Linked DNA regions of Homo sapiens. The protein of the gene in region 3 purifies or fractionates together with the protein of the main gene of each other region. This does not show direct contact. Each region holds a gene or a part of one and is shown on either strand. Other genes may lie near its edges. The genes, in order: RNF20, ZNF217 and ZSCAN4.

What was found.
Region 1: the proteins of ZSCAN4 (region 3) and RNF20 purify together in Homo sapiens (affinity purification with western blotting, with the first as the bait; one study listed by BioGRID). This does not show direct contact.
Region 2: the proteins of ZSCAN4 (region 3) and ZNF217 purify together in Homo sapiens (affinity purification with mass spectrometry, with the first as the bait; one large-scale study listed by BioGRID). This does not show direct contact.

Annotation. Positions count from the first base shown.
Region 1 is NC_000009.12:101,550,740-101,554,393, reverse strand, and holds part of RNF20 (E3 ubiquitin-protein ligase BRE1A), read right to left. Parts: coding exon 3,609-3,654; intron 2,711-3,608; coding exon 2,575-2,710; intron 2,254-2,574; coding exon 2,132-2,253; intron 2,012-2,131; coding exon 1,641-2,011; intron 407-1,640; coding exon 289-406; intron 1-288. UniProt on the Homo sapiens protein: Component of the RNF20/40 E3 ubiquitin-protein ligase complex that mediates monoubiquitination of 'Lys-120' of histone H2B (H2BK120ub1).
Region 2 is NC_000020.11:53,569,802-53,573,455, reverse strand, and holds part of ZNF217 (zinc finger protein 217), read left to right. Parts: intron 1-599; exon of another isoform or gene 600-808; intron 809-1,602; coding exon 1,603-1,712; 3' UTR 1,713-1,735; intron 1,736-2,952; exon of another isoform or gene 2,953-3,184; intron 3,185-3,654.
Region 3 is NC_000019.10:57,675,391-57,679,044, reverse strand, and holds part of ZSCAN4 (zinc finger and SCAN domain-containing protein 4), read right to left. Parts: intron 3,005-3,654; 5' UTR 2,900-3,004; coding exon 2,504-2,899; intron 1,132-2,503; coding exon 966-1,131; intron 880-965; coding exon 140-879; 3' UTR 1-139. UniProt on the Homo sapiens protein: Embryonic stem (ES) cell-specific transcription factor required to regulate ES cell pluripotency. Binds telomeres and plays a key role in genomic stability in ES cells by regulating telomere elongation.

The DNA.
Region 1 (3,654 bases), on a different chromosome or scaffold from region 3:
CAAAAGTAATGAAAAAGATTATCCCTGTAGCAATGAATTACATAGGAAAAACAAGGAATACATACTTTGGAAAGCCTACTCATAACCCCAGTAATTCAGATATATTTTACCATCCTATGGAGAGTTTTAAAATCTCTACTTCAGATGGTCTTTGAAAAGGCAGAAAATGTTGCACTTAAACACTTATTTTAAAGATAAAGAAAGAAATTATATCGTTGGCAAGTATAAAGGAAAATCCCACAAATGAAGATTTTAACCAGAAGGACAGGTAATAGCAGACTAGAATACCTCTGCCTTAGACTTCTTCTCAGCTGCCATCAGCTGAACTTTGTCTCTCTGTTCCTTTGGGGCAGAACGGTACATATCCAGCAATAGTTTCATCTCCTTTTGGCTCTCCTGTGCCTTCCTATGACAGGCGTAGTAGAGGGAGGGGAACAATGTAATAAGAAAATAAAGGTCATCAGAGCAAGGGAATTTTGATTGAGCAGAATATTTTAAAACAGTTTCATTTTACATTTCATATCACACCTAAAAGATAAAATTTTGCACAGACTATCAAAAGACTTTTGGATATGCTTAGAAAGTACAGAAAAGTAAGCTGTATAAAAATGAATCATTTCTCCCTTCAAAGTCCTCTAACAAAGTTATAAAACAGACATTTGTGTACTTGTTATATAGGCAAATTTCTGTGGCCCCCAACCCTGGGTAACTGAGATTCAGTAGGTCTGGGGATGGAGTTCAAAAATTTAAACAAGTGATTTAAACAAGTCACTCAGATGATTCTGATACCACACCAGAAAAAAAAAAAATTGCCTTAAAGAGTTCAAGAGGGAGAAATAAAAGGGAAAAATTTGAAAGTCTGAGATATACTGTTAATCCTAGATTTGACAGCTGAGTGATTAACCATCAGCCAAAGACTAAAACTTCACCTCTTATTAAATTACTAAACCTCTTAACTATACTTTTATATACCAAAAGAGTTCAAGCATTTTGAGCACAGTGGTCTCTCAAGTCCAAACATCAACAAAGGATCAACCATAGAAAGTAAGGAGCAAGAAGTAAGCCGTTCTGCCAGAGAAGTTATTGGTTATACAGGAGAAGGGCCAATGCATAAGGTTATGACACAGAAAAATTCAACAAGTTAAAGGTCTATCTTAGTGTGTCAATGTGTATAGGAGTAAATCTCCTAAGAAAGATATGGCATATTCACAAACCAGTTAACTCTCAGGCAAATAGATCAGATATTGTTCAAGTTACAGTGATATATAAATACTCCACTTAATATCATTTAAATTACAATTAACGCCAGCAATCTGCTCAAATCCAGTGAAGAGCAGTAGTTAATTCCCAATAATTCTCAGAAGTATTACCTCAATCATGACATCCTTTTCCTTAATTTGGATTCATAAAAATAAGGCTACCATCATCGGTTTGCTGATACTCGATCACTGAACCAAAGTACTAAATAGCCATGCAAGCCATTTTGGCTGTGCACTTGAACACGACTTGAAACCAAATTAATTGTACAATCTAAAACATTAAAACGATCAGACAAGCCATGCCATCAACCAAACATTTCATGCATGATGTCTTAATCTTAGCTTTTCAGTCGAAACTGTTACTCTAAATGTGGTTCTTACTTGAGTTCAATCTTCAATTGTTTGATAATTTCTGCTTCCTTTTTCCGTCCATCATCATGTTTGCCTTTCTCTTTATCCTTAGCAGAATCTCTCTCTTTTTCTGACTCTTTTAGCTTCTGCTTCTCTCGTTCTCTCTCCTTCTCCTTCTCCCGTTCTCTTTCTCGTTCCCTCTCCTTCTCCCTCCTTTCTCGTTCTCGTTCTTCTTCATCCCGTTTAGACTTGATTTCATTGGCATCCTCCTGAGATGCCTTTGAAGCTGAGGACTGGGAGGATAAGTCCTCAGAATCTGGTTTTAGCTCCGCAGGCTCATCCTTCGGGTCCTCAGTACTAGACTGGGACTGCAGGAGGGCACTACCACTACGCAGGCGTGTCTGGGAGAATAAAGAAAAGAAAGATGCACATCTCTTATGATAACCACATTGCCGACCTCATTCAAAAGCAGCTTTACGACATTAATAGCAAATGATATTTATTCTATTCCCTCTGGTTACCTTGTTCAGGTCAGACTGGGCTTCTCTCAATTTCCGCTTATATCTCAGGACCTCCCCTTTCAGCTGGTGATTGTGATTCTGGAGGCTACTGATGAGGTGGCGCATCTCCCTGTTTATAGGGCCTTAAATACAGGAACAACAATGTTATGAGGAACCGTGGTAAGGGCAAAGGCACAAGGAGAGAAAGAACAGAACACATCAGGAGGCACTGAGAAATAGGGAGAATTACCAAATAAAAGATTCCTTCTCAGAAGATGAAAACAAAACTGGTCAACTTGAGTTAAAAAACAAACATCCAGGCTGTGAACCAAAATGAATTATAGGATTTAAGGTACTTATGACTTCTGAGTTGAAGTCAGCATTAACAAACCCTGGGGTCTGTGTTGTATCTTTCAAGGAAGGTATTAAGAGCAAACTACAGCATGGAGTGAGAATCATTATACCTGCTTGTTCATTGGCAGCAAGGGTCTGCTCAAATTCTATCCTCAGCATTTCATACTCCTTGCGGACCTGGGCCAATGTATCTTCTAGCTGAATTACTTCAGTCCTCAGCTTCTTATGAAGACTAACCTCATCTCGCTACACACAGATAAAGGAACCAATAAAAAAATTCTTATTAAAATGTAGAAATATCATCATATTCTATGGATTACTCTGAAAATTTCCAGTTCAATCTATACGTAATGAAACCAGATATCTACAAAAGACTAATTTGGAAACTGACAGGATACTGAAAAATAAAGAAAATGGCCACCAATTCTGAGAATATTAGAATTTAGTTGGAGAACTAAACTATAAAACAGTATATAAACATATGTAAAATAGTATTCAATTCATTTGTCAGGCATATATTAAAAGACCAACTATTATAACCATTACCTTAAAAACTATGGAAGATACAGAAATGAACATATGAATAAAAGTTTCTATCTTTTAAAAAAATCATCTACTGGTGCCATTATATGCTTTTTGTTTAAGAAATGTAAGTAATTTTGCAGCTTCTACCCACTATTTTCTCACATACACGTAAGCTCTAGCCATATTAAACTATTTCTCATGCTCTCTCATACCTTTATATGTGCTGTTCTCATGCCGGGAATTCTTCTTCTCCTACTTTCAACTACCAATAATTTATCCTTAATATTTATACCTTACTTTTTTAAGTGGAATCAGGAAACTTCCACAGTCAAATCAGACACTCTTTTCTCATGTATCACATCTTTTGGCTATGCTGCCATTGTACCACATTGCATTCTAATGGATACTATTCTCCCATTACTGCAGACTACAAGATCTGTGAGGGCAGGAATTTTGTCATCTCATCTTTATATGCCCAGTACCTACCAGAGTAAAGACCTACTGCCACTCTATGAATGACAGCTGAATGAATGAGAGATTAATTGCACATGAGGGAGTAAAATTGTAAAATTTAGGAGGCAAGAAAGCTTACATACAAAAGACAAGGCAAGGCTATTACCTCAATAAGCTCAACCTGGTGCTGGTGGGTTCCTCTGGTGCCATGA
Region 2 (3,654 bases), on a different chromosome or scaffold from region 3:
ATAAGTAAGTAAAGTATATGGGAGGATGTGAATAGGTTACGCTACAATACTGCAAATTAATAGTACTACAAGGCCAGTTGCGGTGGCTCACGCCTGTAATCCCAGGACTTTGGGAAACAGCCTGACCAACAATGGAGAAACCTCGTCTCTGCTAAAAATACAAAATTAGCTGGGTGTGGTAGCGCATGCCTGTAATCCCAGCTACTCCAGAGGCTGAGGCAAGAGAATCACTTGAACCTTGGGAGGTGGAGGTTGCGGTGAGCTGAGATTGTGCCATTGCACTCCAGCCTGGGCGACAGAGCGAGACTCCATCTCAAAAAAAAAAAAAAATAGTACTACAGATACTATGAATACTGCAGATACGACACTGTTTTATATTAGGGACCTGAGCATCCATGGATTTTGGTATCTGTTGGCTGGGGTGGTGGGGGCGGGTGGTCCTGGAGCCAGTGCCCTCTGGATACTGAGGGACAACTGTATTAATTTAAAACCAACCTTATTTCCCCCATAGGTAGATTGTTAACCTCATAGATGACTGGGGTTTTCCCCATAGAAATGTGTCCTGGTGGTGTCACTTCGTACAGGTGTCTGGCACATACCTGTATGTGTAAAAAAGTAGCTCAGTGTCCCAGGGACATCTTCTCCTTGGCAAACTCGGTCAAACTGCAGCATCTTCCTTTATCACATAGAAGCTCTACTGGTTTGTGCTCCCCAAAGAAACAGATTCAGTTTTGCACATTTCAGTTTGTGTTAGTTTCAAACTGAGGATTCTGTGTGGTGACAACACTCTGTCAAGAATTGCTTGATGCTGATTGGTTCAGTAGAGATAGCAAATTAAAAAACAATTGCTTTCAGACACTCCAGTAGATTTTATAAAAATTGTGATGAAATAGTAATTTTTACTGCCTTTTGGTTAAAAATCTTCATTTCCCCCCCCATGGTGCTTAAAATGGACATGAATCAAAACTTTGTCTTTACTTAAAGGGGGAAAAGGCTCTGTGTGTTGCAAGTCAGATCCTCTTTTTTTTTTCCCCTCCTCTGTGAGACAGGGTCACACTCTGTTGCCCAGGCTGGAGTGCAGTGGGGGCAATCACGGCTCACTGCAGCCTCGACCTCCGGGACTCAAGCAATCCTTCCATCCTTCCGTCTCAGCCTCCCGAGTAGCTGGGACTAAAGGTGCATGTCACCATACCCAGCTAATTTTTTATTTTTAGTAGAGAAGAGGTCTCACCATGTTGCCTATGCTGGCAAATCCCCTTTTAAATGATTTTAAAAAAAGCAAAAAACAACACTTTTACATAGTTTGGTTCATGATGCATATACGTTTCAAGTATTTTGTGATGTCATTTTTTTCCGGCTTTTTAATTCTTTCTAGTGACAGCCCAGACAATTTTAATGTTAGTGACATCAACCAAATTCTGTGCTAACAAGTGTCATAAAAACAATTCAGCTGTAACTGAAAACACTTGCATGCGACTGTGTGACTTAGGCGTTGATTACATTATCAGTGTCAGAAATTTTGAAAATTGACTTCTAAAAACCTATACACATCTTACCTAATTGTTTGACCTTAACTCTAAATATGTTTTTTTTTTCAATCAGGAAAAAGGCCTGTGTCATATCAACACTTATCTAACAGCATGGCACAAAAGAGAAACTATGAGAATTTTATTGGGAATGCACATTATCGACCAAATGACAAAAAAACTTGATTCACTAATTAGGGGGAAAAAAGGTGAGCATATGTTTCAATTAAAAACACTGGATTGGCTGAGTGCGGTGGCCATTTGGGAGGTCAGGGCGGGCGGATCACCTGAGATCGAGCATTTGAGACCAGCTTGGCCAACATGGTGAAACCCCTGTCTGTACTAAAAATACACAAATTTAGCTGGGCGTGGTGGCGGGTGCCTGTAGTCCCAGCTACTTAGGAGGCTGAAGCAGGAAAATCACTTGAACAACCCAGGAGGCGGAGGTTGCAGTGAGCAGATTGTGCCACTGCAGGTCTAGCCTGGGTGACAGAGCGAGACTCAGTCTAAAAAAAAGGGGGGGCGGGGGCGGGGATTGATTTTACTTGATCGGAAATAAACCATTAAGTTGTCTAATATAATGTAACAAAATTGCTTTTAAGTTGGATTTTGATTTTTTAGGTGTTTTAAAATTAGAGTCCTCAGGATCTTTGGATATTACTGAAGATAATAGGAAAACAGTCATAGTGACTGGAATTTACTGAGCATTTACTTTGTGCTAGGCATTGAATGAAGTGTTTTATTATCAGGATCTCATTTAATTCTGTTGCAGCAGAGGGCTTAGGTAAGGGATGAGCAAACTAGCTTTTCATGCATCATCATCAATAAAGTTTTATTGGAACATGATCATGCCCATCTGTTACATATTGTCTGTGGCTACCTCCTTGCTGCAGCAGCAATGTCGGGCAGTTGTGACAGACCACGTGGCCTGCAAAGCTGAAACTATTTACCGTCTGGCCCTTTACAGAAAAAGTTTGTGACCCAGCATTAGGAGGTACTGTGCATGCTTTTCAGATGAGACCGAGGCATGGATTATGCAGTTTGCTCAAAGCCCCGCTCTGCCTGTGAGAGGCAGGAGCCTGGTTTTTGTCCTAGGTCTGCAAAGATCCAGGCTCTATGCCCAACGTTCTAGTTTAAGAACTTGTTCAAAGACTTGGCAAGTACTTATCTGCCAAGATAAGTACTTATCTGCCAAGGAGGGGAACTGGGACAGGAGCAAGTATGTGAGCATGTGGTTCACATGTTAAAGGTCTCACTGTAGTGCACCGCCGTCCCGTAAGGCTCAAGTAGTAGTATCAGAATTATGCATGTTGGTTTTGTTAGTTTATATTTAGTTAATTAGTTTGGGCAGAAGGTGTGATGTCTGTGTACAGGTTATACTATGACTCATTCAACAATAAGATTAAATGGAAAGCTTGGGGCTCACGGGCAGATTTAGTTGTTCCTCAGGTAACTCTTGTCCCGTAAAACCGTCACTGTATATTCGTTGAGCAGCCTCTTCACCAAGTGCCTGCTGGCTGCTAGGATACGAAGATGAAAAGATGCTCGTGGTCCAGGACAGAATTTCTCTGTCATATTTTCATCGGGACTCATATGGGAACTGAGATGACGTTCTCCCTGGGCAGCGTGAGCCTTGTGTGGTTCTGCAGTCTTTTCTCCTGCTTAGGATAATAGATGAAGAACATGAGGGAGTAAAGCTTTGTCATCACAGGAATAAGATCCAGTCCACTCTATATTAAAACATAAAAATAATTTATGAATTATGAGGAGCAGATTTTAGTAACAGGTTACTCGAAGCATCCATTACAACTGATCAGTAGTAGCAAACAGCCATGCTCCTGTATCTGGAGCTGGTGTCTCTCTGGGAGCTCTGAGCTTCTCTGCTTGTGTTTCCTTCATCTGGAGAACATCCTGCCTGCTCTGTCTTTGCTTTCCAGCCTCTTCTTTCTCATCCTCTGGACCAGCTCACATATTGGTTTTGTTTGTCTGAGACAGGGTCTGGAGTGCAGTGGCACGATCTTGGCTCACTGCAGCCTCAAACTCCTGGGCTCAAGCAGTCCTCCCACCACAGCCTCCTGAGTAGCTGGGATTTTCTTGTGCATGGCAACTGCCTTTTACTGAATTCTGA
Region 3 (3,654 bases):
CTTAGCCTTACATTTTAATGAAGCAAGACAATAAATTGAAAGCATAATCAGGAGATTATATCTTATATCCTAAGTAGATAAATACTATAGGAATATACATACTTGCATACATATTTATACACATTATCAGACCAGCAGCTTAGGAAGCTTCTGGTGTGGAGGGAACACTTGGCAGGGTAATTTTCTCATGAGTCCTCATATGGCGGTGGTATGTGGATGACTGGCGGTAGCTTGTCTTACAAAAGGGACATGTATAAGGCTTTTCTCCTGTGTGGATTCTCTCATGAGACCGCAGGTTGGTTTTGTGGCTGAAGGACTTTTTACACATGCTGCATGTGAAAGGCTTCTTTCCTGTGTGAATTATCTGATGCACCCGTAGGTCTGATATCTGGAAGAAGCCTTTTTGACACTCGGGACAAACAAATGGCCTCTCATTCCTGTGTCTTCTCTGGTGAGCTAATAAGTGACAGAGATACTTAAAGACCTTGGGGCATTCTTCACATTTGTATGATTTTTGGACTCCATGGGATCCTTTCTGATGTACCTCACATGTGGAATTTCCCTCATTGCTCTGGTGGGTAAGGGCAGACTCAGGGGAGGACTGCTCTGGTTGAGAGATACACCCTGCTCCCATCACCATAGGGACACCTTGGAAAGTGATTCCATTTATGGACCCTTCCTGAGATCTAGCAGTGACTAGCTCTGCTCTTTTTGAGTTGTATGGGTTGTCAGAAGAAACACCTCCCTCTTCAGGCCTAGGACCGTTCTCTTCCTGGATGATGATTAGGGAAACTATTTGATTGCCTTGATTAGTAATATTTTCATTTACTCGAGTAGTTTTCGAAGAACTGTTCCAGCCATCTTGTTCATCTTCATATCCTGTGAAAATAGACACTCAATGAAGTTGTACTTAAGAAGGGGTCCACATAGAACACTCCTCAGTTGTGCAGATTCACCTGACTTACCTTGTCCTGTTTCTAAGGAAGTATCTTGGGAAGTCTGGGAGGGTGTCCCCATGTTTGCTTCTCTTGTGGTTTGGGCATTCACTTGTTTTGTGAGATGAACAATGACATCTCTTAAGGGCATATCCTCAGAAAAGAGAGCTTCCTGTCCCTGCATGTGGACGTGGACCTGTAAAGAAAGCCAGATCACTGTTGTATCTGAATCTGTTGTGTAACAGAAGACTTTTTGGAAAAGTGGTCCTTAACAGGCTCTCACAAGCTCCCTCAAGTATTGGCTATCACATATTTTGTCCACCATCTCTGATGGTGTTATTCTTGTTACTACAAGCTCTTATGTTTAATAAAGTCACATGGACATTGAATTTACAAGTACTGAATCATTTCCCCTAGGAAAAATTCAGGGTTAGTTTCCTGTGAGCTTCTGGCTACATTATTTTTGTCAACTGATCAATACATGAGTTTGTTTTATGTGTGTATATGTTCAAAGACACCCCATTTAATATATATTATTGATTAATCCTGAACTCAGAGGATCCAACACATGTATTATCTCCATAATACATAGCAACTTTCCTGCACTTAGGAAGACTAGACAGTGTTTCAGCATTTTACTTCAGTGTCACTTTAAACAACAAAGTTATCAATAAAAAGCAAAAAAAAAAATGTGCCACTAAATAGACTGTGAAAAGGACACTTATTTACACTGTAGGAACCAAAATAGGAAGTGAGGTTGTGGCCTTGTTCAACCTCACCTGGAAACATGCACCTAAGGTAAATCAAATATTTTACCACCTGCACATATCTGAAAATGACGGAGAAGATGCCTCAGGTATTTATTTTAAGCTTACAAATAAATTTTAGCAATTTTGCAAATATGGGCTCTGAGAATAAGGATCTACCGTAATTGCTTCTTTAGAATGTCTTTCTTGATTAGAGTTCCCTGACAGAAGAACAAGCTCTTGTCAAGACATTTCTTCCTCAACCTTGATGTCTTCATTTAAATGTCAATTTCAGGCTGGTCTCACACCTGTAATCCTAGCACTTTGGGAGGCCAAGGCAGGCGGATCACTTGAGGCCAGGAGTTCGAGACCGCCTGGCCAACATGGTGGAACGCTGTCTCTATTAAAAATACAAAAATTAGCCGGCCTTGGTGGAGCACGCCTGTAATCCCAGCTACTCTGGAGGCTGAGCCACGAGAATGACTTGTGCCTGGGAGGCATAGGTTGCAGTGAGCTGATATCATGCCAAAAAGTCAATTTCTCAGAGTCTGCCATTATGCAGACTAAAATTAAGTTAATCAAACATCAATATGTTTGGCTCCTATATGTCCTACAGAATAAACAGATATATACCTTTTTGCTTTTTTTCTTGAGAACTTAGGACATTGAAGATTATTCTTTGTGAGAATGGTGGGAGAGTGTGAGCTGACTAATAACTGGACCTCCAATAGCTTCTCTAACTTCCAGACAACTCTAACTGACTGTGATTTATTCCTTACTTTCCTTTGTCTCTCATCCCAGAAGTTAGAACCCTGTACTCACTAAGGCAGGTGGATTTATGCTGTCATCAGTCAGGTCTTCTATGAATCTCTCCAAGTTTTTGCCACTTGATTTCCATTTCTCTTTCACACTGGCTTTGTCATTGCAGTGGCCACCAATCATAAACTGCTCCAGGACTAATAGAGAAATAATTTCATCCTTGCTGTGCTTTTCTGGTTGCAGCCATGAGTGAAAGATCCTATAAAGTCTTTGCAATTCCTGCCTTGCATATGAATTATTGCTGTCTTGAAATGAATTGAGCACCATTCTTGAGAACTCAGAAATCCCTTCTTCTCTCTGAACAGCAGGTCCTTGGCTTTGTTGAAACGCTGAATTTTCTGATCCAAGATTATTCTCGGATGGTTCACACTGAAATATGGTTCTTAGATCTAAAGCCATTCTTAGCAATAATTCTCAGAGAGACTTTACTTTGATGATTCAGTCTCTTGCCTTGTGTCTCTAGGGATTTGTTTCAACAGTTGGTGGATTCTTTAAAACTGCAAGCTAGAAATAGAAAAGAGATGAGTAATTAATTGCACCACTGGCATAATTAAAGACAAATCAACCAAAAAGTTAGGCCTACATGGCTCTATGGATGAATTCAAAGAAATAATTATAACTTAACATAAACTCTCCCAGAGCATATAAGAGGAAGCACTACCCACTTTAGTTACTGAGGTCAGCACTTCCTGATAACAAAATTTTACAAATACATTAAAATTATCCAAAACAAAATATTTGAAAATAAAATCTACTCACATATACATCGCAAATGGTGTTCATTTCCAAAATGCAGGAAGTTTGGGTTAAAATTCAAAAATCAATGCAATTTACTTCGTTAACGGGATATGGATACAAGAACATAATAAAATCATCTCAATGAATGCATTTAAAATGTTTAAATGCCAATGTTTATTCCTGAAAAAGGCACTTAATAAACTAGAACTATTAGGAAATATCCTTGGCTGGGCACAGTGGCTCACTCCTATAATCCCAGAACTGTGGGAGGCCGAGGAGGGCGGATCACTTGAGGTCAGGAGTTCGAGACTAGCCTGGCCAACATGGTGAGGCACCATCTCTACTAAAAATACAAAACTTGCCGGGTGTGGTTGCTCATGCCTGTAATCCCAACACTTTGGGAGGCTGAGGCAGGT